Homo sapiens: one gene and its partner. The protein of the gene in region 1 interacts with the protein of each later gene in a biochemical or structural test. Each region holds a gene or a part of one and is shown in the gene's direction. Other genes may lie near its edges.

The links.
Region 2: the proteins of MMP1 (region 1) and ITGA2 form a complex in vitro, tested with the Homo sapiens proteins (one study listed by BioGRID).

The regions. Positions count from the first base shown.
Region 1 is NC_000011.10:102,795,161-102,811,963, reverse strand, and holds the start of MMP1 (interstitial collagenase isoform 1 preproprotein), read left to right. Parts: upstream 1-13,803; 5' UTR 13,804-13,871; coding exon 13,872-13,976; intron 13,977-14,463; coding exon 14,464-14,708; intron 14,709-14,801; coding exon 14,802-14,950; intron 14,951-15,174; coding exon 15,175-15,300; intron 15,301-16,356; coding exon 16,357-16,512; intron 16,513-16,672; coding exon 16,673-16,790; exon of another isoform or gene 16,791-16,803. UniProt on the Homo sapiens protein: Cleaves collagens of types I, II, and III at one site in the helical domain. Also cleaves collagens of types VII and X.
Region 2 is NC_000005.10:53,064,111-53,080,948, forward strand, and holds part of ITGA2 (integrin alpha-2 precursor), read left to right. Parts: intron 1-801; coding exon 802-1,005; intron 1,006-1,689; exon of another isoform or gene 1,690-1,730; coding exon 1,731-1,867; intron 1,868-3,007; coding exon 3,008-3,147; intron 3,148-5,998; coding exon 5,999-6,150; intron 6,151-7,827; coding exon 7,828-7,938; intron 7,939-8,502; coding exon 8,503-8,585; intron 8,586-9,007; coding exon 9,008-9,149; intron 9,150-10,274; coding exon 10,275-10,367; intron 10,368-10,950; coding exon 10,951-11,027; intron 11,028-11,110; coding exon 11,111-11,194; intron 11,195-14,661; coding exon 14,662-14,764; intron 14,765-16,400; coding exon 16,401-16,511; intron 16,512-16,838. UniProt on the Homo sapiens protein: Integrin alpha-2/beta-1 is a receptor for laminin, collagen, collagen C-propeptides, fibronectin and E-cadherin. It recognizes the proline-hydroxylated sequence G-F-P-G-E-R in collagen.

The DNA.
Region 1 (16,803 bases):
GTGACAAGCATGATGTACGTTGCATGTGGGGATTTAATTATCCTCAAAACTGTCATGCTGGATATTAATGTTATTATTTCCACTGTATAGGTGAGAAAACAGTATTAGAGAGGTTAACATACCCAAGAATGTAAGTCTCAAAAGTTGCAAACTCAGTTTTTGAATCCAAATCTGCCTTATACAAAAATCAGTTTTTTTTTTCACACAAGAATGCTGTTTCCAGTTCTATATTCTGTTTCTGTGTACATCTGGTAATTCAACATTTGTAATCAAGCTGCTTGGAGTACTAGTGAATGGGAGTATATAGAATTTGTAATACATGTATACAGGTAGTATTTTGATTAATATTCTAGAGACAAATTTCTTTTTTTAGTTCAAGAAAATGCCATAGACTAAGGAAATGAGTTACATGTCTGTGAATTCCTGTTTACCTTTTATTGCTGTGTAGTACCTGATCATGGGAAACAGTCTTAAAGGTCAGAAGGTAGTAAAAACAACATATGTAGTCATTCAATTTGCAAAGTACTTATCAGTTCAATTACATCATAAATAAATGGTGTAAGCATTATTATTTCCTTTTTGCAGATAACACCCAAGATTGCTCTGCTGTGATTCAAACCTGTATCATTTAATTCCAAATTCTGCACTTTGTCTATCACATCCTTTGGAGAATACTTGAAATATACATCCCCTACACATCCCCCTTCCACATACGAGATAACTATCTTCACTTACTACATCTAAAAAGCACTGAGATTGGAACGTGCATTGACTTTGGAATGAGCCCTGGGTTTAAATTTCCATTCTGCCACCTACTGGAGTTTTGGAGAAGACAACGTATGAGTTTCCATTTTTCCTCACTCACACACTCTTAAGGATCCAGATCTGAGGGATCCTGCCTCCCTAGGCCCACCTCACAACTACCCCAGGAGTTTCCAGGGACCTAGAAGTAGAGCATGGGTCTTTATGCCTGGTGGAAACAGCCCAGATGTCTCTTTCCAGTTTAAGGAAACCTCTCCCTCTCTCATGCCTCCCTGAAACCTTTTTCCTTTCCCCTCTTAGTTGAAGACATCTGACAACCTCTTCCTATGAGCTCAGGCTTTTCCAAAAGTTGGAAAGAGATATTGCCTTCATGTAGGTTTCAACTGAAGTCCTGAAGACACCTCTGAGACTAGGAGATACACAGTTCTTGGCAAAGTCAGGGAAAAATATAGAGGAAAATATAATTTTATATCTCAATATATTATCCTATGACATACTCTGTCTATAGAATTATATGTATATATTATTTTGCTGGGACTGTGTTAAATACACCTATGTATGTATAGTTACATAGACGGGTATATTTACAGATATTGAGTCATAAAGATCCAAGTGTGTGTAGGTAAAATATGTAACATGCACTGGTACCTTTTTATAGAAAGACTGCGCTAACCTTCCATGTAAATAGTATGTAGATTTGCTCTTACAACGTAGACAGCAGGGCGCTAGAAGAGCTCAGTAACAGAAGACACTGGGGGACCTGATGGGGGCTTATGACCTCAAGCTGAGCCTTAAAGCCATGGAAGAAAACAAACAGAAGCTCTAGTTGTGTAGCTTTTAAGATAGAGTTTTCTGAGGGGTTCTGGCTATAATCCTCAGAGAAGATTTCTATAAAAACTATTTTGTCCCATGCATTCTATCTATATACATTCTTCTACACCACCACAGGCATTCTACTTTTGAAAGCTGTGTGGCCTGGAAACTTAGTTTTCTTTCCCAAGACCGCAGAGGAGAACTAGGCTGTGCCTAAAGATAGGGCACTGTCTTTTATCAGCTTCACTGCAGAACGCACAGAGTCTAGTTGCAGGGTGATAGGCTGAGGCTATCTCTGCATTTTACCTGAAATTGAATTTAGTTGAGAAAGCACACACAAAAATAAAAATAATAAATCTAACTCTTATTTAGCATGTATTCTGCTATTCTGTGTCAGAAACTCTTTTCATTGCATGTGATTTAAATGGGAAATAATACATTTATATTACCCTAACTTCAAGGACCACTAATATGAAACAGGGAAGCAGAAGTTGATTTCCTTTTCAATTGATCTCTAGGATTAAATTTTTTTATGAGACGATTTGGAGAGTAGGTAATTTGGTCTCCTTTCTGAAATAGAACGAATCTCCAAAATTCTCCACAATGCAGTATGTGATTCTGAAACTGAATAGTTGCATGTCCTCAGTCTTAAGCCAAATCCCAACAAATACCTACTCATGTTTTGGTGTATAAAATGGCTTAAGAATCATTCACTTTTATCAGCTCCCCAAGACCCAACAAAGGACCCTCGCAGGCAGGGCTTATTGAAATAGTCCAGACAGCTGTCTAACCACACAAATCCTTTAAGTCCCTCTCCACTTACCTCTCCAAGAATGCCCAACAGATATTAGTTATGCCAATGTGACAAGATCTATTATCAGTAGTAAGAAGTGCCAGAACTTAAAGAATAGTAAAAAAGGACTTTGATTAAATTTGTATTTCTGGATAAATTGCCTAGAAAGCACACACTTGCATTTTGAATCTTATTTTCCCTGTCTTTCATAATATTTTTGGAGATATATACCACATAAATATTCATTGGCATAATAGGAATTACACCTAAGATTTTAACAGCTACTTGAAGAAATAATAATTTATGCAATAATTAGGCTGCATCCATTTCATGAGCAAATTAACTTCTAAGAGCTAAATTCGTGTCTGATTATTTTTGCAATTTCTAGCCTTGTAGATCAGACGTGCTTACTAAGTGGGAGTGAGTTCAGTCTACTTGCTTTCAATTTGTTCATACAAAAGTCTAGGGGATACTTAACTAACATGTGGTCCACATATACTGAGACAGTCTGATAAATATATTTTCTTTGAGAGTTCACTGTGGTTTCTTGGGTTTAACCATGTATTAGTCTGTTCTCACGCTGCTAATAAAGACATACCTGAGACCAGGTAATTTAAAAAGGAAAGAGATTTAATTGATTCATAGTTCCACATGGCTGGGGAGGCCTCACAATCCTGGCAGAAGGCGAATGAGGAGCAAAGTCAGGGTCTTACATGGTACTAGGTAAGAGAGCATGTGCAGGGGAACTCCCCCTTTTGAAAACCATCACATCTTGTGAGACTTATTCACTATCACAAGAATAGCACGGGAAAAGACCCGTCCCCATGATTTAATTACTTCCCACGGGACCACTCCCAAGACATGTGAGAATTATGGGACCTACAATTCAAGATGAGATTTGGGTGGGGACACTGCAAAACCGTATCAAACCACTTCAGCATACATAGTCACTAGGATTTCCCTCAGACTTGCAAAGCGAAAGAACTCTTACTGAAAGAAGGGACACTTACCCTTAAAGGGACACTTACCCTCAAAAGTACTAAGTGCCACTTTTTCTATTCTATTGCATGTAACCTAACATTTCCCCTGTTGAGCAAGTTTCTACAAAGCAACTGGTAAACCTTGGAGAATGGGCAGGGACACAATGAAAACATCAGCCTTTTTTCAACAAATCACCTTCCATTAAGAGAATGAGGTGAAGATAAGGAAAATATGAAAAGGGCTTTAAGAAAGTGTAATGCGCTAAGAAAATTCAGAGTGAAACTATTGGGCTGGAGCTGGAGTAACAAGACGGCAGCGTCGGCAGAGGGACAGGGGTCCTTCCGGGCTGGAGCTGCTGGCAGTGGTGGCAATGGTATCCCTGCTCTAGCTCACCGCACCCCTTTTTCCAGCCTGCACATAGCTGAGACAGCAAGGCAGTGGCGCCGCCCAGAAACAAGTGGCCCAGCCTTGTAACTGCAAGAACCCTTTCACAAACCGCAGCCTGGCAACAAGAAACCTGACTGAGCAGCGGTGATCAGGTTCCCCGTCAGCTGATTCCGGGCCGCGAATATGAGGGAGGCCTCCGTGTTCCATGTCCCGTTTCCTGCCACCTTCCGCCGTGGAGGAGCCCCAGAGGCCTCCGTCCTCCTCTCAGAGGCGTCTGGACTTGGCCTCAGCCTCTGTCTTCATCTCTTAGGATGGCGAGCAGCAGCGGATCCAAGGCCGAATTTATTGTTTGAGGGAAATATAAACTAGTAAGGAAGATCAGGTCTGGCTCCTTCTGGGACCTTTATCTGGCCATCGATATCACCAATGGCGAGCAAGTGGCAGTGAAGCTAGAATCTCAAAAGGCCAGGCATCCCCAGTTGCTGTAGGAAAGCAAACTCTGTGAGATTCTTCAAGGCAGGCTTGGCATCCCCCACATACCGTGGTATGATCAGGAAAAAGACTGCAATGTACCAGTCATAGACCTTCCGGGACCTAGCCTCGAAGACCTCTTCAATTTCTCTTCAAGAAGGTTCACAATGAAAACTGTGCTTATGTTAGCTGACCAGACAATCAATAAAATTGAGTATGTGCATACAAACAATTTTATACATAGAGACGTTAAACCAGATAACTCCCTAAAGGTATTGGACACCACTGTAGTAAGTTATTCCGTATTGATTCTGGTTTGGTCAAAAAATACAGCAACAGCAGGACAAGGCAACGCATACTGTGCAGGTAATATAAAAATCTCACTAGCACTGCCCGACGTGCCAGCATCAATGCACATCTTGGTATCGAGCAGAGTCACAGAGATGATATGGAATCCTTAGGCTGTTTTGATGTGTTTTAACAGAACCAGCTTGCCATGGCAAGGACTTAGGTCCGCAACAAAGAAACAAAAATATGAAAAGATTAGTGAAAAGAAGATGCCCACTCCTGTTGAAGTTTTATGTAAGGGGTTTCCTGCAGAATTTGCCATGTGCTTAAACTATAATCGCGGGCTACACTTTGAGGAAGTCCCGGATGAGGTGTATCTCAGACAGCTATTCCGCATTCTTTCGAGGACCCTGAACCACCAATACGACTAAACATTTTATTGGACAATGTGAAAGTTGAAAGTAGCGCAGCAGACAGCCTCTTCCAGTGGGCAGGGTCAGCAGGCCCAAACCCCCACTGGTTTCTAAGCACGAGCTGAGTAACAGAAGAAGCAGAGCAGATGATCTGTTGCTTTTGATCTCGCATTTGTTGCTGCTAGAAATTTTATTTCATATGTACACTAGCCAATGGTAGTTGCAACCAACTACTTGGTGTTAGGAACTTAATTTCAGTATGAACTGACTCTGGGCAGCACTGGTAATGCTGCATCCTGAATTGCAGCTGCTGTAATCGTGAATATTAACTGAGATAGTGAAACATGATGTCCGGTTTTCTATTGCATTTTTTTTCAAGTGAAAAAATTAAATGTTTGACTCACACAAATTAGTGGAGAAATTGGGCAAATGCCAATTTTTTTGTTAAAACCTTTTGTTTTGAACTATACTACTTTGAGATGTCATTTAAGAAGAAGGAGATAAAGTCTTCAGCCACAGTTGTGATGGTTGTAAGTGCTCGCAATTGTGCATTCTTAGCATTTTTCCATCCCTGGGCTTTGCAAGTTCTTCACTTAAAACATTCTTAAAATGGTTGTCTTGTTGCTTGAAAGCCAATTGATATGATAGCAACCAAATATTCCATTGTTTGAGCATATGAAAGGCTCTGCCTGCTCATTCGTGCTAGAAATAACAGCGTCCAAAATGAAGATGTAAGAAAAACTTAGTAACTACTAGGTTATTCTTAGGACTCTGCATTAATTTTATAATATTCTTGTTATTTAAAAAAGCATATTTGTCACAGAAATTTAGTTAACATCTTACAACTAAACATGTATCCATGTTGCTTAGATAAACATAATCACTGTAAACATCTGCATGATCTGGGATTTTGTTTTTATTTTGAAATGGGAACTTTTTTTGTTTACAAGTTCATTGAAAACTAAAAACTTTCTGTAAAAAAAACCTATCTCACAAAGGGAGAAAGGTAATGGAGGAAATTATCAGCGAAGTAACCCTTATACTAAGTCTTGCAGAATGGGTAGACTTGTATTAAGTAGAAATAGAGGAGAATAAAAAATATAAAAAAGCAGGACAGGTACAAGGCACATTTGGGAAAAAATATAATTCACTTTGTTTGTAAGGGGGTAGGATGAGAGGGAAGTGGGACCGGTAAGTTATTTTTAGACCTGAGCATGGAAGGTCTTAAGTGCTAAAGTTAGTTTATATCTGTTTTGCTTTTTTTAAAAATTAATTTTTTATTTCTATAGGTTACTGGGGAACAGGTGGTGTTTGGTTACATGTGTAAGTTCTTTAGTGATGATTTGTGAGATTTTAGTGCACCCATTACCTGAGCAGTATATACTCAATTTGTAGTCTTTTATCTAAACCTGACCCCCTTCCCACCCTTTCCTCCTGAGTCCCCAGAGTCCATTGTGTCATTTTTATGCCTTTGCATCTTCACAGCTTAGCTCCCACTTATGAGTGAGAACATAAGATGTTTGACTTTCCATTCCTGATTTACTTCACTTAGAAGAACAGTCTCTAATCTCATCCAGGTTGCTGCAAATGCCATTAATTCATTCCTTTTTATGGCTGAGTAGTATTCTACCACATATAATAGTATTCCATCATATATAATATATATACTCTATATATAGTATATATATTATAATATACAGAGTATTATATATATCATATATAGTATTCTGTTATATTTTTTATATATATAATGTATATATATGATATATGATAAAATATATATATGATAAATATATATCACAGTTTCTTTATCCACTTGTTGATTCATGGGCATTTGGGTTGGTTCCACATTTTTGCAACTGCGAATTGTGCTGGTATAAACATGCATATGCAAGTATCTTTTTTGTATAATTTAGTTCTTTTCCTCTGGGTAGATACTCAGTAGCGGAATTGCTGGATCAAATGGTAGTTCTACTTTTAGTTATTTAAGGAACCTCCACACTGTTTTCCATAGCGGCTGTGCTAGTTTACATTCCCACCAGCAGTGTAGAAGTGTTCCCTGTTCACTGCATCCATGCCAACATCTACTGTTTTTTGATTTTTTGATTATGGGCATTCTTGCAGGATTAAGGTGGTATCGCATTGTGGTTTTGATTTGCATTTCCCTGATCATAAGTGATGTTGAGCATATTTTCATATGTTTGTTGGCCATTTGTATATCTTCTTTTGAGAATTGTCTGTTCATGTCCTTAGCCCACTTTTTGATGACATTGTTTGTTTTATTCTGGCTAATTTATTTGAGTTTGTTGCAGATTCTGGATATTAGTCCTTTGTCAGATATATCAATTGTGAGGATTTTCTCCCACTCTGTGGGTTGTCTGTTTACTCTGCTGGTTGTTCCTTTTGCCGTGCTAGACAATGGATACCACTGAAGCATTTTATTCATAAAAATAATTACAAATATTTTGTGTGTGTTCACTGTGTGCCAGTCATTGTACTAATATATTTTATATGTATTATTTTAGTCTCCAAACAACCATCTAAGGCAGGTGCTGTTATTATTTCCATTTTTTAGATGAGAAAATAAAAAGGTTGAATAATTGGTCATTTAGCTAGTAATTGGCAGAGTTGGCATTTGAACCCACGTCTGTGATTTAGCAAGCTGTGCTAGGTAAGAAGTATATAAGGAGGAATAGGAGTCTTGGTTTAAAAGAAAATGAAACCAGATCTATCCAGATGGAAGTGTCCTGGTGGCAGTGGAAACTATGAGACAGGAGTTCAGGAAAACAGTAGGGCTCGAGTTTAGGAAGACATTTTTGTGGGGATGTTGGGTGAAGTTGTGGGAATAGATGAGACTGTCCTGGAGAAATAGTGGCCAGAGATTAAAAGTGAAGACTCAAAACAGGACATTGGTGAATGGCAAAATTCAAGAGGAAGGGAAGGAAGGAGACACCAGCAAAGGAGGGGAAATAATCAGAAAGGTACAGGGAGAAAAATAAAGTGCAGAAACTCCAAGCTGAGGGTTTCCAAGACTGAGCATTGAATACTAAAAAGGACTGATGAAAATGTGAACTGAAGAAAAGCCATTTGACTTTTTTAAAATGGTGGATGTTAATAGTAATGTTTGAAAATGTACTACAAGGGGGTGAGGTCAAGGTCAAGATCCAAGTTAAGTAATAAGGCTGATGACAAAGAGAAAAGTGATGCTCAAGGAGTTATGGGTTGCAACAATTGTTAGGGTTGTGCTCCTTCATGTATTTCACAGAGCAGCCATGTTCACAGGATGAGGGAAAGAATCTGTGCCAAGGGCAAGAAACACCCTTGAGAGAGAAGGGTATAATTCACGGGAGAAGATGTCAGTTTAAGCAAAAAGGGACTGTGCAGTCTTATTGGTGGTTTCATCAATAATTTTCTATTAGAACTAAAAATGCATCTCAGTGACAAGTATAAAAAGATGTCTGCAGGGATTAATCTTTTGTCTTAAGAGCTGAATTACCTGGTTTAGCAGCCAAAGACCTTTTTCAAGTTTCTGTCTCTACTACTTGCTAGAGGAACTGTCTTGGACAAAAGATTTAGTCATGGAAAGTTGTCCCAGTTTCTTCACCTATGAAATGGAAATAATAGTATCCACCCTAACTATTCCACAGGATTATTGTGAGGATAAAATAGTTTTGTATGTTAAAGGTATAGAGAGCCCAGTAAAGGTTAAATGTTATTTCTTTCAGTGAGAATTCATAAGAATTGACTGATTCTTAGCCAGGCATGGTGGCACATGCCTGTAATCCCAGCCACTTGAGAAGCTGAGGCAGGAGAATTGCTTGAGCCCGGGAAGTGGAGGTTGCAATGAGCCAAGATCATGCCACTGCACTCTAGCCTGGGTGACAGAGTGACACTCTGTCTCAATAGAAAAAAAAAAAGAAAAAGAATTGACTGGTTCAAGGAAAACCAGCTGACCAGCCCAATGGTCATCATAAATGATTATAACTTTAGGAGGCTGATGAGGGAGGATCACTTGAGGCTAGGAGTTTGAGACCAGCCGGAACAGCATAGCAAGACCCTGTCTCTACAAAAATAATAATAATAACAATTAGCTGGGTGTGGTGGCATACACCTGTAGTTCCCCAGTTGCCGTACGAGAGCTGTAGTCCCAGCTACTTGAGAGGCTGATGTGGGAGGATCACTTGAGCCCAGGAGGCGGAGGCTGCAATGAGCCATGGTTATGCCACTGCATTCCAGCCTGGGCAACAGAGCAAGACTCTGCCTCAAAAAGTATAATAATAAAAAAATAAAGAAAGAATTATGGCTGAGGCATAAGTAGTTAAGAGTAATTAAAAAGAACTGGGTAGCAGGCTTAGAGAACATTTCACTTTGTGAAAAACAGAAAAATTCTGAAACAATGGAATATAGTTTGAATTCTGAATCATGGACTAAAAGCTCTGCAGGCCACACACGTGTGTATGTCACAGACTCCAAACAAGCAAGTCATAGTCTGGGCACATGATCAAAATCTCACAGGAAGCTTCCTCACATATTTCAAATCCATCTCAAATTCACATTCACAGATGTAAGAGCTGGGAAAGGACGGTTTTGACAGGGCTGAACTGAGCTATGGTATGAGTAGCACTCATCCCCAGAAAGTCTCTTGGTTTGAATTTCCTTTAAAAGGAGCTATAGCTGCAAAAATCTGTTTCACAAATGTGCTAACTATAAGCATTTTCCACAGTGTTTAATAAACCATGCAGATAAGAAAATATTATTGACAAACAAATTAATAAAATGCTCAAAATAATCTGATACTAAATGCTTGTAGCATGGCATGCAAATCACCAAAAATAAATGTGCTATGCTTCATATAAAATCTCCAGTAAGGCTGAGTGTGGTGGCTCACACCTATAATCCCAACACTCTGGGAGGCCGAGGTGAGAGAACTGCTTGAGGCCAGGAGTTTGAGACTAGCCTGGCCAACATAGTGAGACCTCATCTCTACAAAAAATCTTAAAAATCAGTGGGACATGGTGGTGCACATCTGTAGTTCTAGCTACTTGGGAGTCTGAGGCAGGAAGATTGCTTAAGCCCAAGAGTTTGAGGTCCCTACACTCCAGCCTAAGCGACAGAGGGAGACCTTGTCTCTAAATAAATAAATTAGTTAATTGAATGTCCAGTCAGTTGATATATCCAAATTCTTCCCATGGTAATTTTAAAAACTTTAGTCTTAGGAGAGTAAAAGTCATGGGCATAAGACTTCTTATAAACAACTCAGCCTAATGAGAAATAGACCCTTTATTTAAGTGTCATTTAAGTATCTATTTCTTCATTGATCTATTCATTTATTAACTCATGTAACAATCATTTGCAGACACCTACTATGTTGAGGTAGTATAAACTATAAATTCAACAAGTTTGATAAGGGAAATAAGAGAGATTGAGTGACAGCTTGAAGGGGAGGATTCTTTCAGGCCTGTGGGACCGGGTGGTGGCATGGAGACATTATTGTGGACTTGAGGGAGTTAATGTGACAGTCCTCGTGTCTCCAGACACTTTCTCTCTGTTAGGGAAGCAAGATTTCTATCCCCAGAGTATGTATGTGTTATGTCTGGACTGCAGTGGCACAGAACTGTGTTCAACGAGTGACTACCGCTCTGCTGTGTGCCCTGGGACTTGGGGTTAATTGATCAATCATTTCTACCCAGAAGGTAACCATGAGGACTGACGGAACCAGTGTGTACCAAGTGTCTGTTAAGTGTCTGGTCAATGGTTATCCATAAAGCTACTGCATGGCCATATGTAGGAAGAATACAGACCGTGGGGCAAATTTTTCCCACGTGTAACTCTCACAACAAAATAGCATTAAATACTTAATGTTTCTGGCTAAAGACCATTTCAAGACTTGCAGGACAAAAAAATAGAAAAAATATCTGACACTCAAATGGAGTTACAAAATTAAAACGGCTGAATTCCCCAGCATAAAAAAATATGAAGCAAGATTGAAATTTCAAGACTAAGTTTAATATGGAAAAATACAAATATGTTTGAGGCCTTTCACAGAGCAGCCAGCATGAAGCAACCAAGAAAACCACGGAAATAATCTGGCTGCCTGGAAATAGTCCGGAGTCAGCTGACACAGCCACACGAGAGCCCTCTTATGCTTGTCATAAGGGGTAAAGGAATAATTTCAGAAAATTACATTTAAAAGAGAATTATGGGGGAAGAAGATGCTCCCAGAGGAAACAAATAGTATGGATGTGAAGAGCAAATACAACTTTAACATGTTCTGAACTTCTTGGAAACTATGCTAAGTTTAGGCATTGCTAGGATTTGGTATGATTTAATCCCCAGCTTTCTGTTCTAAATTTTTGTTTTCTTTTTTACTCTCAAATAAATCATATGCTAGCACCAGCTGCAAAGTTACATATGTTGTATTAGACGATCTTCCATGAATACCTAACTGGAAATTCCAAGATTCAGGGCCATGTGAATCTAGGCTGGCTGCTTAACCAAAACTTAATTTAATTTTTTTCGTTTATTTTAGGAAAAAAAATTAACGAAAAGATGTTTCAAGCAACCAGTTTCCAATCCACGTCAGCAACTATGACATTTAATGAAACACTATGAGCATTTAGCATGAGAGCTCTGGACTCAGATGCAGGGAGCTTTGCTAGAGAAGGGAGGAAAAAGCAGGCATGATGTGGCGGGTTGTGGGGGACTCCAAGGCTCTATTTCCAACTTCCATCAGAGAACTTCTGTTTTCACCTGGTTTTCAAATTTGCTTTCCAAAAGGGATTTTGTTTAAGTAAAGGATACAGAGGTTTATAAAAGTTTGAAAACTTCTACATTGCAGGATGTGCAGGCTCTTGCCAGATGGGACAGTGTATGAGACTCTTCCAGGGTGACGTCTTAGGCAATTTCCTGTCCAATCACAGATGGTCACATGCTGCTTTCCTGAGTTAACCTATTAACTCACCCTTGTTTCCCAGGCCTCAGTGGAGCTAGGCTTGTCACGTCTTCACAGTGACTAGATTCCCTCACAGTCGAGTATATCTGCCACTCCTTGACTTTTAAAACATAGTCTATGTTCACCCTCTAATATGAAGAGCCCCTTTCACTATTTTCTTTGTCTGTGCTGGAGTCACTTCAGTGGCAAGTGTTCTTTGGTCTCTGCCGCACCCTCCCTCTGATGCCTCTGAGAAGAGGATTTCCTTTTCGTGAGAATGTCTTCCCATTCTTCTTACCCTCTTGAACTCACATGTTATGCCACTTAGATGAGGAAATTGTAGTTAAATAATTAGAAAGGATATGACTTATCTCAAATCAATCCAAGATATACTGAAGTATTGTTTATGAGTAAGATATCAGTCTTGACGCAGAAAGAAAACAGGAATCCATAAGGGGAGGAAAGTGTTGAAAAGCAAACCTGATACAGTGGGAAAGGTGGGAGACACCATAAGGTGCTGAAGTGATAAAACAGGCCAGTGTTTCTCCACTGTATGTTTTCAATAAATGCTTCCAAGGAAGGAGAGTGGGGCATGAGTAGGGGAGCTACAGAGATAAACCAACTTTTCTTACCAGGAATGCTACAGATAGCACTGGTGACACCGGTCACCAGTACCCAAGACAATTTAATGTGGAACATAAGTACAGGAATACACATCTTTCATTACAGAGCCATGTATTTATTTTAATGGGCAGGAGATGCTAAATAAGATCTTTTGAATGGAGGAATGCATAAATATATGAATGAATGCATACATGAAAGAATAAATAAATGCTGCCTAGCACCAAGGAGCGAAGATAGACTCATATCAAGGGAAACAAGTATGATTAAAAATAAGACCCCAGAGTCACGCTCAGTCTCTTTCCAGCCTTTTCATCATCCGGTACATTCAGACAAGTTTCAGGGAAGGATCCTATTTGTCCCATGATAATGATGGGCAAGGGGTGGGGAGTTATCTCATACTCCGCCTGTGGATGAGGGGTCTTCTCAGGTAAGGCTCTTAAATCCTAGGCCTGAGTAAATTTTTTCAAATTTTATTTTAGACAGGGTCCCTCTCTGTTGCCTAGGCTGGAGTGCAGCGGCACAATCACAGCTCAATGCAGCCTCAACCTCCCAGGCCCAAGTGATCCTCCCACCTCAGCCTCTTCAGTGACTAGGACTACAGGTGCATGACTCCATGCTTGGCTAACTTTAAAAAATGTTTGTTTGTTTGTTTGTTTTTTACAGAGATGGGGTCTCACCATGTTGCCCAGGCTGATCTTGAACTCCTGGGCTCAAGTGATTCCCCTGCCTCGGCCTCCTGAAATTCTGGGATTATAGGCTTGAGCCACCATGCCTGGCTCTGAGTAAAGATTAAGGGAAGCCATGGTGCTATCGCAATAGGGTACCAGGCAGCTTAACAAAGGCAGAAGGGAACCTCAGAGAACCCCGAAGAGCCACCGTAAAGTGAGTGCTGGGGGAGCTGAACTTCAGTCAGTACAGGTGCCGAACAGCCATCAGGTGCGCAGTGTTAGTAATTCCACCCTCTGCCCTGGGAGCAAGGTGTGTGGAGAAACCTGTAGCACTTTATGACCATCAGAACCAGTCTTTTTCAAAAAGACCATGGAGTACTCTTTGACCTGTGTATATAACAAGAACCTTTCTCAAATAGGAAAGAAATGAATTGGAGAAAACCACTGTTTACATGGCAGAGTGTGTCTCCTTCGCACACATCTTGTTTGAAGTTAATCATGACATTGCAACACCAAGTGATTCCAAATAATCTGCTAGGAGTCACCATTTCTAATGATTGCCTAGTCTATTCATAGCTAATCAAGAGGATGTTATAAAGCATGAGTCAGACAGCCTCTGGCTTTCTGGAAGGGCAAGGACTCTATATATACAGAGGGAGCTTCCTAGCTGGGATATTGGAGCAGCAAGAGGCTGGGAAGCCATCACTTACCTTGCACTGAGAAAGAAGACAAAGGCCAGTATGCACAGCTTTCCTCCACTGCTGCTGCTGCTGTTCTGGGGTGTGGTGTCTCACAGCTTCCCAGCGACTCTAGAAACACAAGAGCAAGATGTGGACTTAGTCCAGGTAAATGCTGCATTGCATGTGACAATAATGTAAATTTTTAGTTTGTATTTTTCTGCAGTAATGTAATAGAGTTTTTTAAGGATAGGTTTCTTATAAAGAGATTTTTTTTTTTTTTGCTAGAAACAGCACCCTCCACCCAAAATGTATCTAGCCATGCATACGCTCTCTTTTTCCAGTTGGAGGTGAGAGTGAACTAAAGGAACAACATCCAAACTTGTCTCCACAAATTGTAGACTTGTAACAGTATGCAAATCTTGCTCTACAAAAATTGCTCTACTATGAAGTTCTTACTTCACAATAACTAATAGTAGGGACATTTCTACTCTGAAATTTCATTTCTCACCAAAAATAAGGATAAAAGCAACTGCGAAATCTAAACACAAGGTTTAAAAGCAGTTCTCTGTTTTGGCTAAAACTTAATGCCATCAATTTTTAGAATAATGAGAAAGATTTCCCATGCAGTGTTTCGATAATTTTCTTTTGTCAGAAATACCTGGAAAAATACTACAACCTGAAGAATGATGGGAGGCAAGTTGAAAAGCGGAGAAATAGTGGCCCAGTGGTTGAAAAATTGAAGCAAATGCAGGAATTCTTTGGGCTGAAAGTGACTGGGAAACCAGATGCTGAAACCCTGAAGGTGATGAAGCAGCCCAGATGTGGAGTGCCTGATGTGGCTCAGTTTGTCCTCACTGAGGGGAACCCTCGCTGGGAGCAAACACATCTGACCTACAGGTAGGCAGACTGAGGGCCAGAGTGAGAGAGCTATTTCCCATGACAGTGGTAAGAAGTCATGTCCAATGTGTCTCTATTTTGTTTCATTCTAAGGATTGAAAATTACACGCCAGATTTGCCAAGAGCAGATGTGGACCATGCCATTGAGAAAGCCTTCCAACTCTGGAGTAATGTCACACCTCTGACATTCACCAAGGTCTCTGAGGGTCAAGCAGACATCATGATATCTTTTGTCAGGGGAGGTAAGTTCTTCTTATAGCACCTTAACCTCACCTTGCCCCTAGATCTCGTAGCTTTGCAACTGGAATTGATTGTTTAAGATGAATGTTGATTTTATGGGCTCGAAGAGGGAAACTGCATCACAGTTGATGGAAGTCTGTTGGCCTCTTAACAAAGCTAATGCTTGCCCTTCTGGCTTAGCTTACATAAGAACCACAAGGAATCTTTGTTGAATTGTTTCTTTCAGATCATCGGGACAACTCTCCTTTTGATGGACCTGGAGGAAATCTTGCTCATGCTTTTCAACCAGGCCCAGGTATTGGAGGGGATGCTCATTTTGATGAAGATGAAAGGTGGACCAACAATTTCAGAGGTAAGCCAATCAAATTTGCCTCTCTCAATTCTCCCACCCCTTCATGTTTCATTGTAATATTGGTTGATTTAGTTGAAAGAATGCATTCATAGAAGTATATATTTTTCTATTACCACTCAGAAAATTAGTGATACACTTAGAAAAGTGAAAGAGCGGTCTTTTCTGCTAGCTAACAACATCTTAGCAGTGACAACTAGGCCACTCTAAAATTTTTATTAAGAAAATTGTTGAAAACTTTGATGTTTTAATTGTGGGCATCAACATTGAAACTTTTTCATTAGAAGAAAACAGTGAAATTTAACAGCGGTCATAAACTTATGTGGAAATTAAAGAAAAGGAAGGCTTTTTGTGTTTTCCAAAATTTCCAGCAGTCAACATTTATCAGTTTTGTAAATAAGAAAAATATTAAATATTAGGCTGGGCGCAGTGGCTCATGCCTGTAATCCCAGCACTTTGGGAGGCCAAGGCAGGCAGATCACAACGTCAGGAGTTTGACACCAGCCTGACCAATATGGTGAAACCCTGTCTCTTCTAAAAATATAAAAATTAGACAGGCATGGTGGCACACGTCTGTAATCTCAGCTACTCAGGAGGCTGAGGCAGGAGAACCGCCTGAACCCAGGAGGCAGAGGTTGCAGTGAGCCAAGATCATGCCACTGCCCTCCAGCCTGGGTGACAGAGCAAGACTCCGTCTCAAGAAAGAAAAAAAGAAAAAGAAAAATATTAAATGTTAATAGAACATTTTGCTTCTGTGTGAAATAGTACGTGTCATTTAATCATTGATAATATTGATTAATCTGTGGTGCGCTTTCAGTCAGCTGAGTTTGTCTTTTAATTGTATCAATGTAATCATAGAGTTTAGGTTTCAACATGTCTCTTCGTTATTAATAAATGCATGCCTTCTGCCTTCGGAAAAAAGATATACATGCATATATTTCAAAAGTCACTGATAAAATAGTAACATGAGTCCTTGTAGTTGTAAATTATTTATTAGTTAAATGCCTCAAAACTGAATACCTTTCAAATAATTACAAATTGATTTATTGGCCTTTTTAGAGTACAACTTACATCGTGTTGCAGCTCATGAACTCGGCCATTCTCTTGGACTCTCCCATTCTACTGATATCGGGGCTTTGATGTACCCTAGCTACACCTTCAGTGGTGATGTTCAGCTAGCTCAGGATGACATTGATGGCATCCAAGCCATATATGGTGAGTATGGGGAAAAACATTACGGACAAGGGCCTGGTGGTCTTTATATGTATTTCAAATAAAACAGCCATTAGCGATATCCTTGAAGAAGCTGTCTTCATTGTTTATGTAGTTTTCTAATACTAGGCAAAACTAACTCTAGGTATTTTATTTTCCTTAGGACGTTCCCAAAATCCTGTCCAGCCCATCGGCCCACAAACCCCAAAAGCGTGTGACAGTAAGCTAACCTTTGATGCTATAACTACGATTCGGGGAGAAGTGATGTTCTTTAAAGACAGGTAAGATGTCAGT
Region 2 (16,838 bases), on another chromosome or scaffold:
TAATAATGGAGATATTAACAATCTCATTTTCTACTTCCTGTACCACTATAATTATGTCACTATTTGGTAATTTTTACAGAAAGCCTAAATTAAGATATTGTGTTTTATTTTGTTCTGTGTCTGCTTTAATTTCATTCAAGATATTAGTAATTTTCACCAGAAAAATTTTAAATCAAAAGGTTGGAAATAGATGAAGATCGTATTATTGAGAGGAAAATGAGACCAAGAAATGGATGCTGTTCAGCTACAGTAAAGAGAATTATCTCCTTTGACCTTGGTTTATGAGCAGATATTTATGACCTTACTGAAATTCTTATTTATAATTCTGATCATAAATAGTTCAGGTTTAAAATTCTATCCATTTTTAATATTAAAAAATTAGTTTGGTCATCGATTGCTCTGAATTTTATTTTCTTTTTTATTTTATCATATTTCTTTCACTTTTTTAAATAGATGGGGACTTGCTCTGTCACCCAGGCTGTAGTGCACTGGTGTGATCATAGCTCACTGCAGCCTCTAATTCCTAGGCTCAAGCAATCCTCCCACTTCAGCCTCCTGAGAGCTAGGACTACAGCTGTGTGCCACCACTCCTGGCTAACTTTTTACAAAAATGTTTTATAGAGACAAGGTCTCACTATTGCTCAAGCAGGTCTCAAATACCTGGCTTCAAGTAGTCCTTCTGCCTCAGCCTCTGGAGTCTTTGGGATTACAGGCATGAGCCACCACACCCAGCTGCTCTGAATTTTAATTATACAAGTTGTAAGGTTTGCTTTAATCATCCTTTTGTTTCCCCTTTGCAAGGGCATTTTGGGTCAGCACCAATTTCTTGAAGGCCCCGAGGGCATTGAAAACACTCGATTTGGTTCAGCAATTGCAGCTCTTTCAGACATCAACATGGATGGCTTTAATGATGTGATTGTTGGTTCACCACTAGAAAATCAGAATTCTGGAGCTGTATACATTTACAATGGTCATCAGGGCACTATCCGCACAAAGTATTCCCAGGTAATCCATGAGCTGTTATGGTGATGTATGTATTTGTGGGTCTTATCATATTAGACATAGAAAGCGTCATGTAAACCATGCAATCCGTCCGCCTTATTTTGTAACTTCATTCTTTCACTCAGCAAATATAAAGTGAGCCTCTACTGTGTGCCCAAGCACTGTTCTAGAGTCTGGGGATGCTATAAGAACAGGACAGACACAATTCTGATCTTTGTGTGCCTTATATTATATTGGAGGAGACAAATAAAAAGAAAGAAGTAGATAAGATAAAGTATTCCAGATAGTAATAAAGGAATTTTTAAAAAAGCAAATGAAACTAAAATAGGAAATAAAATTTCAGCAATAGGAGTATCAGGTGGTTGAAGGGGTGACTAATGAGGCCTCACTGAGCAGCCAATTTTGGAGTAAGACTGGAAGGAAAAGAACTAGGAAATTAACCCTGTACCTGAACTTGCATCAATTTGCTCCAAGTCCACTGATCTTTTCACTGGTTTATGATTTTTTATTAAAGATTTATGCTGTCCCTTCGATGAAAATGTGGCTGTAAGAGTGATGCAGAGATCAGATAATAAGATGTGATTAAAAAATGAATCTTTAGAATTTGTAGAGAATAAACACAATCTGGGACATTACTATATAGAAAATATAATAATGAAATTCAGAGGCTGCCATTTTCTGGTTCAGCTGTTGTGTACTATAATTTCGTGTCAAACCTGCTCTTTTAGAAAATCTTGGGATCCGATGGAGCCTTTAGGAGCCATCTCCAGTACTTTGGGAGGTCCTTGGATGGCTATGGAGATTTAAATGGGGATTCCATCACCGATGTGTCTATTGGTGCCTTTGGACAAGTGGTTCAACTCTGGTGAGTCAGGAAGAGCCAGACACAAACTAACTAAAAATTACCTGCTAAGAAAGCAGAACAGATGTCTGTACTGGTATTATAGAAATGCCACATGCATTCTATAAGACTATAGGGAATCGATGTATCATAGTTTGCACAAAGGAATAAATGTGTTTTTCCAAGTAGGAAAAATAGATATATTTGCTTACCATTAGAAATATAGTTCTCTCCTCATATGGTGAGTAAAACAGTACATAGAAAACATAAAGTTCTGGAAATGGTATCCAGGCTATTTCTGAATGTTATCTTCCTATAAATAGCCTTATCTCAGCATACAGAAGGGAAACCTCATGAGAGTGCATTCAAAAATACTGAAAATTCAGACCACACAAGTAAAGTGTAACTTCTATGTGACTGAATGGTATATTTTAAAATTATTAGTCATAAACAATAAGCCATTATTTAGGTTTAGCTGACCTCTCATTGACCTCCACAGGAGTTGAAGATTCAGAGAGAACAGTGTGAAGGTCATGTGATTCAAGGTCAAAAATAAGTATATTGGGCCGGCAAGGGAATAGAATCAGAAAGAAGTTGTTTATTCAATCAAGAATCTCCATTCATTTGTCTCTGTCAAAAAATGTGCTTTAAATGTACAAATATTTGAAGAACAGAAAAATAATATTCATTGATTATTTTTTATTTCTGAGTTTAATGATACTATTTACAAATCTCACTTGTGCTTTTAAAGAATGAAGTACATTATTTTTATTGCAGAATGAAACTTTTATGTGGAAAAAATAAAACTCAAGAATAATACTTAAGACTTTAAAAAAACAAGAAAATATATTTACTGAATAAATCAGTTAAAATCATTTCAGAGTAGCATATCAAGAGTAAATACACATATCCCAGAACCTAAAGTATAATAAATAACTAATATGTTAAACATGTATTGTGTTAGTGATGCAGTCACAAATTAAAAAAAAAATTATCTCTGTCTGCCATCTTAGAGCTTTCAAATATATACTACTGCTAAAGTGCTTTGATAGAGAGTAGAGAGAAAAATTCAGTAATGCTGGTACTGGGTCCTCTATGATAAAGGATATAATACGTGTGCTCAGTAATAACATCCATCCATCTGTTACTCTTTATGTCTTTTAGGTCACAAAGTATTGCTGATGTAGCTATAGAAGCTTCATTCACACCAGAAAAAATCACTTTGGTCAACAAGAATGCTCAGATAATTCTCAAACTCTGCTTCAGTGCAAAGTTCAGACCTACTAAGCAAAACAATCAAGTGGGTGCGTAGATCTGAAATAATCTGTATAGAAATTGGTTGGCTTACAGAGTTTTAGTCCTGAATATAACATATTTTGGTTTGTAGGCCAAGAGAAATAAGGGTTTTAGTTATAGACACTTAAGTTTCCTTACACTGGAGATGCCCGAGAATGGTTCACTAGTCATGGAAGATTTGTTTAGATCTTCCTTCCACATCTCTAGAAGGTTCTGCTGCAGAAAGTTGTAATCTCTATGACATAACCAAGGGCCCTCCTGCTTCCATCCTTTGAGTTTCTCTTACCTCCATTTCTCTTACTTAAAACCTTGAGCATACACAGATTATGCTGAACTGCCACTCAAATGACTATATCATGTTGGCTATGCCATGATCTATATAGGACAGGTTCAGTAAAAGTATCAAGTATTTTTCCTGTCGTTGAGGAATTAATAAACATGAAATAATGAAAGAAAACATGAAAAGCAATATATAACTTTTACCCAGTGTTTTAAATGTTCTAAATAATACAGAGAAATGAGTAAAAGTCTGAATTATGTCTCATCAGATGGGGAAGGATGAGGAAATCATTGTGGGCAAGCATCAGCAGGAATTGTTGTCTTTTCTCTTGGGCTGGCCAAGTTGTCTTTCAAGGCCTGGCAGAGGTCCTGCCTCCTCTTCAAAGCTTTTTCTAAGCACACTATCTCACCTTCATCTCTTCTGCCCCAATTATCTCACCATGCTCAATGCATAGCTTGCAATTTAACACTTGATTCAAAGCTACCTTCTTTCATTAACTGCTGCTTCATGGGTCCCAATTCCCATTCCGTCAGAATTTGGCTTTAAACTTCAGAACTTGTAGTTCCTATAGGAATTCAATTAAGTGACAAACATATTAACTTAAAGCTGAAAATACAGAAGCAGGTTATTTGCCATAATTCATACCAAGATACAAATAAGATGAGAACACAAAGCAAAATTAGATTCAAATCTTAACATGCTTTCCATATTTTCCTACTTTTCATATCCATTTGGAAGTTTTCCATGCAGATGTTCAAAGATTGACCCAATTTTGAGTAGCATATGTCACTTGACCTGCCATGTAGCACATCTAACTGAGCACACATGATAGTTAAGTCAAAAACCGTTGCTGCATAAACATTGTGGCTAGTCTGCCTAATAGGTTAACTTGGGAAATATATTATTTGGCAGAAACAGCAAACTGGTCAGCTCTTCTGGCCCCGAAGCATAGAGGTGTCTCATGTATCTTCCCTTTTTGACTATACTTCAACCCTTATGGTGATGCACACTCAAAAATTCTACTTTCAGAGAATTTCCTTCCCATCCACAGGCTGCCGAGGGTTTCTGGCCTTTCTTACTATTGGGCATCTTTCCCTTTAAATCTTTTTTCCTGATGCCTTCAGGTCCACAAAGACAAGCCAAGTGAAATGATTGTGAGCTCATTTGTCACTTCATTGCTTGGCAATAATAGTATGTAAGACGTGAATCCCATCTTCACAACTGTGGAAAGTGAATTTATAAAGCATATGGTTTCTATCATTTATTGCATCAGGTGCACACTTCACTTTAAGATTAATAACATAGCCCATGAAGCGATGTATCATTTTTATAAAGCTGCTTGAAAAAAAAAGGAAAAGCATTATAATGTGGACTAACTTTGTCCTAACTGCACTCACCTCCTTGCCATTGTTTTTCCTTTACATCATCTTCACAACTTATTTTTAGTTTATTTAATTCTTTAATATTTTATCTATCTTTGTTGGCATTGTTAAGTCACTGGAGCAAGAAAAATTGTACAACATATATGATAGATTTTTTTCAAGGTAACATGTAGAATTCATGTTTTGGGAAGTATATACAACCTTTAAAATATTGAAAATAATAAAGTAAGATAGAATAACCCCAAATAAGGCAATAAGGCAGCTGATGCTGTGAATGGCACCAGGTGTTCTCTCTCAATTTTGGACACACGGCCAGTGGACTTTAGTTGAAGGTAATAATTCTGATAGTTTAGACATCGGCTACTGACATCAGTTATTATCACATAATTTTTTTTCATGAGTTGGTATTAGGAAACAGAGGTTCAAAGAGGGTAAGTAAATTGCCCCAAGTCACAGAGCTCATAAACAGCAGAATTAGGATTCAAACCAAGTCTGCCTGACTGAGACTTTATTGCTGCAGTGTTGCATGCATTTCCCTATGTGAGCATCTAGAATAGGTCAAGCACTGTCCATGTTCCCTTAGAGTATCTCAGTTAATCTTCACAATAACAATTAATTCTTACAACTGGATGGAAGCAGAAAGAATATGAGCTCTTATTTCAAAAATACCCAACTTTTACTTCTGACTAGCCATGTGAACTTAGGTGAATTATTTTACATCACTTATTCTAGTACATTATTTGAAAAATAAGATAATAAAATTCACTTTCCAGATTCATTGTAAAACTTGTATGGCATACATGAGAATGTGTCCAGTTGCAGGCGCTCAGCAACTGTTCCTTTCCATTCTGTGTCTCCGTGTTATGAGTAATGAAACCCGTGCTTGTGGGAGTGAGCAATTTGCCCAGGTTCATCACAGTAGGTTTCCTGGCGGCAAGTCTAGTTTCCTTTCCACTGCTCCCAGCCACATTTCTCTGAATCACATTTCTTTGTATGCACAGTCACCTACGTCACATCAGAGCTAGAATGACAAATGCTTTGTGGTGCTAGCTATGGTTCACAAGCCACCAATATGAAGACTATTTCCATATTTTCTTGATGTGAGATACTTTGTCCAAGAAGACACAATAAAGCAAAGATGCTTTTTCCTATAAGTTGATTTGAAATAACATTTCTTTATGATTTTTTTTATCATAGCCATTGTATATAACATCACACTTGATGCAGATGGATTTTCATCCAGAGTAACCTCCAGGGGGTTATTTAAAGAAAACAATGAAAGGTGCCTGCAGAAGAATATGGTAGTAAATCAAGCACAGAGTTGCCCCGAGCACATCATTTATATACAGGTAAGGCCTCAGGAACATCCCTTTTGACTTTATTTCTTCCTAAAGACGAGAGAGTGGTAAAAGTCAAAAATGGAAGCTTATGAGTTAGAAAATGCTCACCCTTCCAATGAATGCCTTTCTTATGTAATTCCATAAATAAGAAGCATATTTACTTTATGCTAATATTTATGGTCACAATCTATTATATAAGTCAGCAACATCAAATTTCATTTAGAATTGCAATGAAAGGGCTAAAAATACAATTCTTAAAGAAATCATAGATACAGTGTTTTCTTAAATGTTTAACAGAGAGAACTTTCCATTGGCAATAAATGTTATTTTGATATTTTCCTATCAGGGAAAAATTTTATTTATTGTTCAGCTACTGAAAAATAACTCCAATTGTGGTTTCTACTATTAGATTTAAGTTAACATAGATGAAATATAGTAGATTATGAGATAACAATTATTTGTTCTAATCGTATGCTGTAATTACTGTATTTAACATGGATTTTGAAAATTTCCCAAGTGAGAAAAATGCTTTTCAGGAGAAAACTTCCAGCCGGAAATTTATTTTATAAATGATGTGAATATTTCCACCTTGGAAACCACATAATGGCATTTGAAAGGATAATTTACTCAGGAAATCACTTTTTTAAAAGGATATTTAAGTACTTTCTTAGAATACAGTTCTCAGAATTTAAGGTGCGAAAGAACTGCCAGGGAAACTTTTGGGAAATGTATATTCTGGGTTCTTACCATCAGAAATCTAGGTTTGAAGGCCCAAGGAATATGCAGATCTAAGGAGCAACCCAAATATTTCTGATGTAAATGGATGGTACAGAGAGATCTTACTTCAAGAAATGCTAAGTGTAAACACTAGAAAAACATAAAGTTGACGGTTAGATGAATTAAAATCAGTTGAGTTGTTTAGTTCATTTTTCAATTTGAAGGTTTCTTGTTTGTGAAGACGTAGACTTCTTTTTTGTTAAAGTGACAATTTTATAGATTCCTTAAAGGAAAAAATCTTATTTCCCTTCTCTCCCATCCTGTGCTGACTGGTGGATCAGATTATACATGCAATCCCTAGTGAGGAAATGGAGACAGCCAAGCTGTTTTTCTTTAAAGTTTAAAAAAACAAAATCCTTTTTCACTATTTGATATCAATGCCAGTTAAAGTACATCCTACTTGCTAAGCCCGCAGCCAGCCAAGGAAACATCTCCTCATAGTCCAGAGCTGTCATGGTAGACAGGCCCCCAGAAGGAATAAGTCCTTCTGGGAGGACTTCTGGGAGGCCCCCAAGAGTTAAGAGTAAGTCCTGCCTGTGAATGGACTAAAGAATACCAAGATACCGCTTCTGAGGAAAAGGCAAATTCAAATGTTAGGGTTTCATTTGTATAGACATAGTGCTTTTTTGACAAGAACTGATGAGCTTAACTAAGAATCCCTGCTTCAAATTCTTACTAGACCCAAGTCTCTTTTGGTTTCTTAGTAGAAGAGAGGCTAAAAGCAGAATTAGGATGGAAGAAAAGAAGCGAGAGTCTTGATTATTCACAACAAAGATATTCTACATAATTGAGAGCTGACTGTGCTCTAAATTGTAAACACATTTGGAATCATTTTCTTGTTTTAATGTTGCTATGCTCTAATAAACTGACTCTGTCTCCCCCTGTATGTTTGTGTGTGTGTATGTTTAGGAGCCCTCTGATGTTGTCAACTCTTTGGATTTGCGTGTGGACATCAGTCTGGAAAACCCTGGCACTAGCCCTGCCCTTGAAGCCTATTCTGAGACTGCCAAGGTCTTCAGTGTAAGTGCAGCTTACACTTCCTGGATTTAGACTGGCAAATAAAGTTCCACAGTCACTGCAATAGTGTCTGAAGGATGGTTAGGATGCAGCCTGAAAATTCTTAATTTTCTAAATGAACTACAATTACATATGCATAAAGTTCACTAACACTTAAGTTCCATGACAGCAGGGATTTTTGTCTTTCTTGTTCACTGCTGTGTTTCCACTCCCTAGAGCAGGGCCTGGCCCATTGTATGTGTTCAATATATATTTGTTGAATAAATAAATAAAAATAAAGTAAATGCCTTGTGCTCATACTCAAAAAATATTACCAATACATATGAAGCTCTGCGTATAGCTGTCCCCGCCATAGACACTTTCATCTAGCTCCCCCTGTGCAAATGATTATCTTGAATTGTGTGTTTATTAATGCTTTTCTTTATTATTTTGTTAAACATTTATATATTCCTAGAACATTGTTTGGTTTTGTACTTTATGTAAATAGAATAATATTCTATGTATTCTTCTGTAATTTGCTTTTTCAACCCAAGAGCAAATGTATGGATCTTTTTTCCTTTTTCGTAGATTCCTTTCCACAAAGACTGTGGTGAGGACGGACTTTGCATTTCTGATCTAGTCCTAGATGTCCGACAAATACCAGCTGCTCAGTAAGTTTTACTTTAAAGCTTGTTGTAAAATGTAGAAATAAAAGACATACTAGATTACTTTATTCAAACGAATGTTTATAGAGTTTTTCTACAAAAGAAACATTCATAACTCATAAATACCTTTAAAAACTAAATTTCAATGTCTACCATCCACATAGGAGTAAAACAATAAGAAATATAAAATTATCTGTATTTAAATGGTTCCATTCCCTCTAATACAATAGCAACAAAGAACAATCCAATTGCATTTACTTATTTGTTGTCAGTATCATTTTGATGCAAAGATAGTTTATTACACAGCAATTTTCTCAGTATTCTAAGTAAGTCTAAAGAGTTTAGTTTTTTAATGAGTGAAATTTTAAAATACTGGCCTTTTTATTTAACAGTAATGGCTTTTCCCCCCTCCTTTTTACTTTTAACAGAGAACAACCCTTTATTGTCAGCAACCAAAACAAAAGGTTAACATTTTCAGTAACGCTGAAAAATAAAAGGGAAAGTGCATACAACACTGGAATTGTTGTTGATTTTTCAGAAAACTTGTTTTTTGCATCATTCTCCCTGCCGGTATGTGATGAGACCCTGTACTTACTTCCACCATGCTTCCTACTTATAGATCACTGTCTTCTCTATGTCCTCTGAGTTGTTTAAAGAAGCACCTTAACCCTCAACATGATCAATCTGAACTTTGTGGCTTCCGACTAGTTAAACTGCATGAGAACATAGTCTGGCTCTATATCTAGATTCTGCTTGACAGCTTGGGTCAGTTTTTCCCTTATCCTGAGACTTGGCAGCAGTAGCCAGACACTCCCATAACTCTTCTTGAGCTATCAGTGTGATGAGGCTGCTGCATTCTGCACAGATGTGGTGCACTTGCTCTGAGACATTTGAGTCCCAAAGCTTAGCCTGAGCTTTGCAACTATGGTTGTTGCTGCTGCCAAGATGATGCACGCCAGCAAAGCCAACTAATCACATTGACTTGATCATTATACCAGGAGCACACTTGACTGTGAGTGCTCCCTGGTCCCTCCTCTACCACCAAATTATGAAGAAAAAAGGGAGAGAAGGAAAAGCTGAGATTTTCCAAATGAGCTATCTGATTAAAGGATTAAACAATGATTTCATTTAATTTAGAGTTAATGTGATCTTAATAGGCTTAGAGTTCTAAACCTAACCTGACCTTGGTGTTTAAACACCCTGTGCCAAGTGGCAACTACTTCCTTTAAAGGGAAAAAAAAACCTGAAGAAAACTAAAAAAAAAAAAAAAAAAAAAACCCTCAAATTACTTAAAATACAGACAAACACCAACATATGATTTTACTTTCTTCTCTTGAAAATGCTTCAAATAAATTGAGAAGAACATATTCCTAAAGCCAGCATTTCAAAATATTGAATTAAAGCTATTCGTGCATCTGAAAATAAAAACTATCATTTTTTTCTGGGGAAAAAATACAGTATTTAATCTTTTCTTTGTTTTGTTGGATGTTCTAGGTATCTTTAGGGTTAGCAATAAAAGTAGTATATTAGCCACCTGGGCAGTATAAAATTTCAAGTCTTGAGGTATAATAAATTATTTCAGTATGAACCAACCTTACTGCTAAAATGCCACTGTACCTCTTTTACCAGGTGCGTGCATACACACACAAATGTTGTATGCCAATTGATCATTGTTGTTTCCTTGGTCTTGTTCAGGTTGATGGGACAGAAGTAACATGCCAGGTGGCTGCATCTCAGAAGTCTGTTGCCTGCGATGTAGGCTACCCTGCTTTAAAGAGAGAACAACAGGTACAACTTGCATTTCATCCTCCAATCCATACAAGCCCTCCTTAGCACATATGCTAATTTACCAACATAACATCTTGCTATCATGATTTGATAGGCATCACAAAATAACTAGCTGCATACTTAGGGGAAGTTTTCAATATCTAAATGTTTTCTTTAAATTATTAATAAAAATGGGATTTTCTCCATGCAATTCATTCCAAAAGGTACACATACTATGGAAAGTTCTTTTTGTCTAAATATGTTGAGCAACATTGGTCAAAGCACTATACACAGAGTCACAGAGATCATTTATTAACCCCTAGTAACAAGTTTCACATCAGCTCAAAGCTTCCAAATTCAGACAGGTATATACGCCTGGATAACTTACATGTGTCACTTGGAAGTCAAGCTTCTCTAATTCTAATGTGAGGCATAGTAAAACAAGGTGGACAAATAAAGATATTCCACAAATTTGAAAGCTTAAGGTATATAAAATTCAGAATCAAATTTGAGTGAGTTTACTTTTATGAGAAACATTTTTTTTTTCACGTTGGCCTCTGAGTATGAAGCATCATAGACTGAGAAATTTTAATTTTGTCTTTAGGTGACTTTTACTATTAACTTTGACTTCAATCTTCAAAACCTTCAGAATCAGGCGTCTCTCAGTTTCCAAGCCTTAAGGTAAAACATAATGAAGTCATGAATGGAATGATGGATAGCTTTGTATTTCTCTTTAAGTAATTTCCTAATGTTTCTTTCTATAGTGAAAGCCAAGAAGAAAACAAGGCTGATAATTTGGTCAACCTCAAAATTCCTCTCCTGTATGATGCTGAAATTCACTTAACAAGGTAGGTGAAGCAGTGGGTAACCTGCTATCACTGACACCAACTCTAGATCAGAAGATTTTTGGCTCATGGCTAAAGAAGTCCTCTGTATGCTCATTCTTAACTGAAGAATTTGAATTAAAATTCTTGTCAACTAAAACAGGAGTCCACAGACATATTGGTCCCTAGGAAAACCTTGAGTGACTCGTTAGGCTTATTAAACCAATGAGAGTAGCCCAGAAAGGCAGAGAAAGATCCCCGTAGCCACACATCACAGGCACACTCCACATTGCAGGCCCTCTGAGTAGCTGCAAACATTCTCAAAATGTTGAAACAGAACTCTCAAAGGTCCTGAGAGTTGTCTTCACTTTCTTCTCACTGCCTACTTCCCATTGTATGTGAGATCTCAAGCAGTATCCCCATTCCTGGACATTGAAGCCCCAAGCACAATGTTTTGCACAGAGTAGGTCCACAATAAATATTGAATCTAGTCACTGTTTGAATATTCAAATATTGGAACTAGATCAAGTCTAGTTTCTGAGGGAAAAATTCCTCACATATCAGATTAGGGTTTTCTTCCAGCCAGGTGGAAATGAGGTTTTTTCCAAAGGATGTTATCCATAAAGAAATGCTTTGTTCCCTGTTTTTACCTGCCCAAAGCAAGCAAACCTGAGAGCAGTGGTGTAAATGTCACTGGTTGATACAGGCTGTCTTTAATTGTTCAGAGGGACAGGTGTCTTGGTAAGTGGGTAACACACAAATTCCACAGGTTCTAATAGGTCGATATCACTTTAACTCACACTTAGAAGTAAGGTGAGTTCATGGCACAGACAAACTGGAACACAGTTGTGCAGATGCACTGGGCACAGGTGATGCCCTCCTACAGGCCTGGGAACCAGAGTTCTCTACCTGGTGAAGCAATAGGACAGCTTCCCAGCACAGATCAATGACCCCTGAATAGCACACTGCAGCACTTTCCCAAGAAATCCAGTGACAGCAGGTTTGTCTAACTTCTACCACATCACTCCAGCCCCTAAGAGCATGGAATCTGTAGATCATCCAATAGCTCTCTGAGCAAAAACAAAAAGGAAAATATGTCATCATGTCTAGAGCTTGAGCCAAACAGCAAAGATGAAAAGAATGCTTCTGTATCAAGTGAGTTGCAAATAGCACAAGCAGAAACAAAATTCCGTCCAAATAATACATCTCTGAAAAAGTCATCAGTAACTGCAGACTTCAAAGGATCCCCACTTGCTAAAATAAGAAATTGGAAACAAATGCAACCAACCCAAATTGATGTTACCACATTACCTGAATTTTTTCCTTCTTATATTTGATCCTTTCTTCTAAATATTTTTTGTCAATACAGTCTTTTTATTATTCTACTCTCCTACAATGGCCAATATTTTCCCAGATATTTAAGAATGAAATAAATATAAGATTGAAATGAGACTTTACTTTTACTAATTATCATCTTAGGCAGGTATTTTTGTAATGGCAACTTGAATTCAAATGTATTCTAATGTTCTTTAAAATATATCCTCAAAAAAATTAACGTAGGGAATTATAAAGAACAAAAGTTAAAATGGGTCCTAGTCCTACTACCTAGAAAACCCAAACATTGGAGAAAGGTAGACAGTGAGAAGTCATCCCTCCCCACCTTCCCTAGTGCCACTCCCCATAAGAGACTGTTTTCAGAATATCTTCCAGATACAGGGTTGCTTATCTACCAGGATATATGCATGTAACACACACATACACATATATATACACACACATGTGCACATTTTATTACCCAAAAGGAATGATAAAACACTCTTCTGTACCTTGCATTTTACATAATCTTAGAAAAGTTTTCATATGAGGACATACAGATCTAACTTATTCCAGTCCTGGCTGGATCATAATTTATGTAACCAATTCAATATTAACAAGACATTTGGTTGTTTTGCATTTTTATTTTGTTTTGTTTAACCATCATAAGCAATGCTGCAAAAAAAATAACAAACATCTTTGCAAACTTTTGGAAAAAATCCTACACAATAACTTAGTGTATTTCTTAGCAACAACTTTGATACTGTATAACTGTACAGTTATATTGTAAAAAAAATGATGGGTAGAAATAGCGATAATAGTATTATTTCTGAAGCAGGATCCCCCTGAGTATAGATATTTACTATTATAAATATATTGATCAACACTTAAGTAACAAATGGAAAAGTGTCAGATCTCTTTAAAATGCAAATGCAGACCATATTAATTTAGAAATTGGCCCCATTTAGGATCTCACACAAAGATCTTCTGGAAGGCATAGGAAATAATTCATGCACACACATCCAAGCTTTCTGTTTCAAATCCTAGTCAGTTTTCCCATTTTCCATGTCAGGCTGACAAATCATTGTTTCCTCTCATATATAACCTTGACAAATACATCCACTCAAGTCTCCCTGTGACATATTTTCCTTTTAAGGATATGGAAAAAATCATTAAGGCATAAAAGAGGGAAAGACAAGGTTTTAGTAAAGAAACCCAAAAAATTCTACTTCAGAAAATATCCACCCCAAGTTTTTAAGAAATAGAATCAACATTCTATAATTAACGTAAATTGTCCAGTGGGAATAAATGGAAAGGATATGCACAGTGTTCTCAGACCCCTACCCTCACTGCTCATCCCCTAATCCCCCACGCAAAGAAGCTACCCTGGTTGGAATCCCACCTCAGAGCCCCAGAAATGAGTGAGGAGAGGGGAGGTCCCCAGTTTCATTCTAGTCTGAGTGGTCCTATGAGGGTTTCTCTGATCTCATCATCACTTTGCTTGCAGAACTTAGTTGGCAATCTTAAGCAAAGAAGTTAAGATCAATCCAGTGGCTTTAGGTCCAGAATACTAAAACCTCTGGATCATCCATCTTAAAGGTGGTCTCTACACTAATGGTGGAAACAGATTTGACCAACCTCATTCAGACCCAAACCATTCAAATTGGTTTGCAACTAAAGAAGGATAGGAAGAACGAATAATACAGGCATCCAATAATGAACACTGAAGGAGCTCAATACCCTATTATTATATTTTAGCCACACCAAAGTGAAAACCCCTGGCTTATAAATCCATTCATTCAACTAACAAGTACTGATTGTCTACTATGTTAACATACTAGTCAATATAACAGTAATCTTGGGAAGACTTCTACTATCAATTCTAAAGTAATACTTTTGTACTTATTTAGAAACTTGAGAATTGGTAGACATGTAATGCACAAACTCTTAGCAGAAAATCCACAAAGAAATATGTTTTCAAAGGAATTTATGTTAGTCTTAGAAACATACATTGGACGATAAGCCCATAGGCAAGCATTTCTTTTTATTTGGTGCTTTTGTAACTAAAAGTAAAATTTACTTTAACCTAAGCTATAAGATACTTAAATAAAAGAAATATTAACCTTCAAGAACAAAAGCAAACTAAAATATTTGGCTTTACAAACATCATCCAACAGATCTACCAACATAAATTTTTATGAAATCTCTTCGGATGGGAATGTTCCTTCAATCGTGCACAGTTTTGAAGATGTTGGTCCAAAATTCATCTTCTCCCTGAAGGTTGGTAAGCCTGTCATAAGGATGGCAAATCCAGGAGAAAGTGAGAAGAAAAAAAATGAGTCTGGAAATAAAAGGAGAAAGTAAAAAGAAATTGAAAGAGATCCGTGGTTCTCAAACTTGGGTGTGCATTACAATCACCTGGAGGAATTGTGAAACCACAGATGCTGGGCTTTATCTCCAGCGTTTCTGATTCAGTAGGTCTAGGGTGGGCCTACACATTTGCATATCTAACAAGCTCCCAGGTGATGCTTATGCTGCTGGTCCAGGTGCCATACTTTGATAACCAATAGGCTAGATCATAGTTAAGTAAACAACTGGGCTTTGTGCATAGTTATGTGTCTTGGGTAAGGGATACTTGATATATTTTGAAGGCAAATGTTCAACATTAACCAACAGAGCATTACTATAAAGGAAGGTATTGCTGTGGGTAAAAGTCTTTGGCATATAATTATTATGCCAATTTATCCTCAGAGACCACTTCTGTTTGAGTTTACCATTTGTATACAAATCTGTACAGTAATACTAGGTAGTATCTAAAAATATTTTTGAACCAAATTCTATTTACTATTAGTAAGCGATTATTAATCTAAAGATTACTACCAGTTAAAGATAAATTAATTTGTGAAAGAATAACTATTTTATATTGTAATTAAAGTTAAAGAAACTTTGGAAAGTAAAAAGAATTTATCCACTATCCTAAGCCAATACCATTTTATTTTTGTTCATTTCTCACTTGTTTGTTACATGGTTGCAACTCTGCAATTTTGTGATAAAAAAAATCTTTAGAAGAATCTTTATGATCTAGATACTACAATAGAATTTATAAAATGTGGATGGTATTTGGCAACTACATTCTTTAATGGGGCATCTATTCAATTCGCGGTAATAACATTCATAGAGTGTGTAATAAGTATACACCAGCCATGGTATCAAGTGCTTTACATATGTTATCCCATTTAGTTCCCAGATCGGTTATGAGCTTGGTATTATTATTCCCAGGGATGTTATTTAAAATATTTAAATAACCAGTAGTGTATGAGCCCTGGCCAATTAGAACAGAAACCCCCACCCATGAGAACAGATGCTGTACCAGTGCCCTGTGCCAGCACATACATACTGAATTTCTGATCATCTTTATTTTACAAATAAGAAAAGCATAGAGAGGTCAAGTTCCTTGCCCAAGCCACACTGCTAATCAGCAGCAGACTGGGACACAACACTCCGGCAGCCCAGCTCCACAGATGGCATTTTTAACCATTTATACCACATGTCTCACAAAGTCACAAATTACTTACCCATTAACATTGTAGATGTTGAGTTTTTTTCCATTGAGCCATTTATGCCCAGTGTTCCATTATTGGCGCACTAAGCATGTGGGAGTTACTTATATCCTACTGCTCAAGGTCATTGCCAAGGTATGATCGAAATTTCAAAAAAATTGCAACCTCAGGCATAAATGCGTTTTAAGAGGTGAGACACAGAGACCTGAAGTGTGACTATAAAGTAATGGCTGACTTTCATTTGGACTCAGTCTTACCACCTCGTAGTTGCCCTTCATCAACACGGGGTTACTGGTGAATTTCCTTGCATCATGTACATCCTGTTGCAGTACTGGCACATTTTATTCTCTACATAGGTAACAACAGGAAGTGTTCCAGTAAGCATGGCAACTGTAATCATCCACATCCCTCAGTATACCAAAGAAAAGAACCCACTGATGTACCTAACTGGGGTGCAAACAGACAAGGTAAAGATTAAAAAATTGCCTAAAAATGTGTACTTTCAAGATGTAAATAACCCATGAGATTAGGGTGATCATGTCTGACATTTTACAGATGGGAAACAGATGGTAACTCCTATGCAGCCTGGGTGCCAACTGACTAGCAGTTAATTTCATATTAGAAAAAATATTGTTACAAGAAAACAAATGGCTGAGTCTAGGGAATTGCAGGTGGCAGAAATTATTCCAAAAACCCCATTTTGGCCTGGTGAAGATCTGACTTTGACAGGCCCTGTGAAGGCTGGGAGGTAAGGGGCTGGACCTATATGGGGAGCATAGCAGGTCTTCACAGCT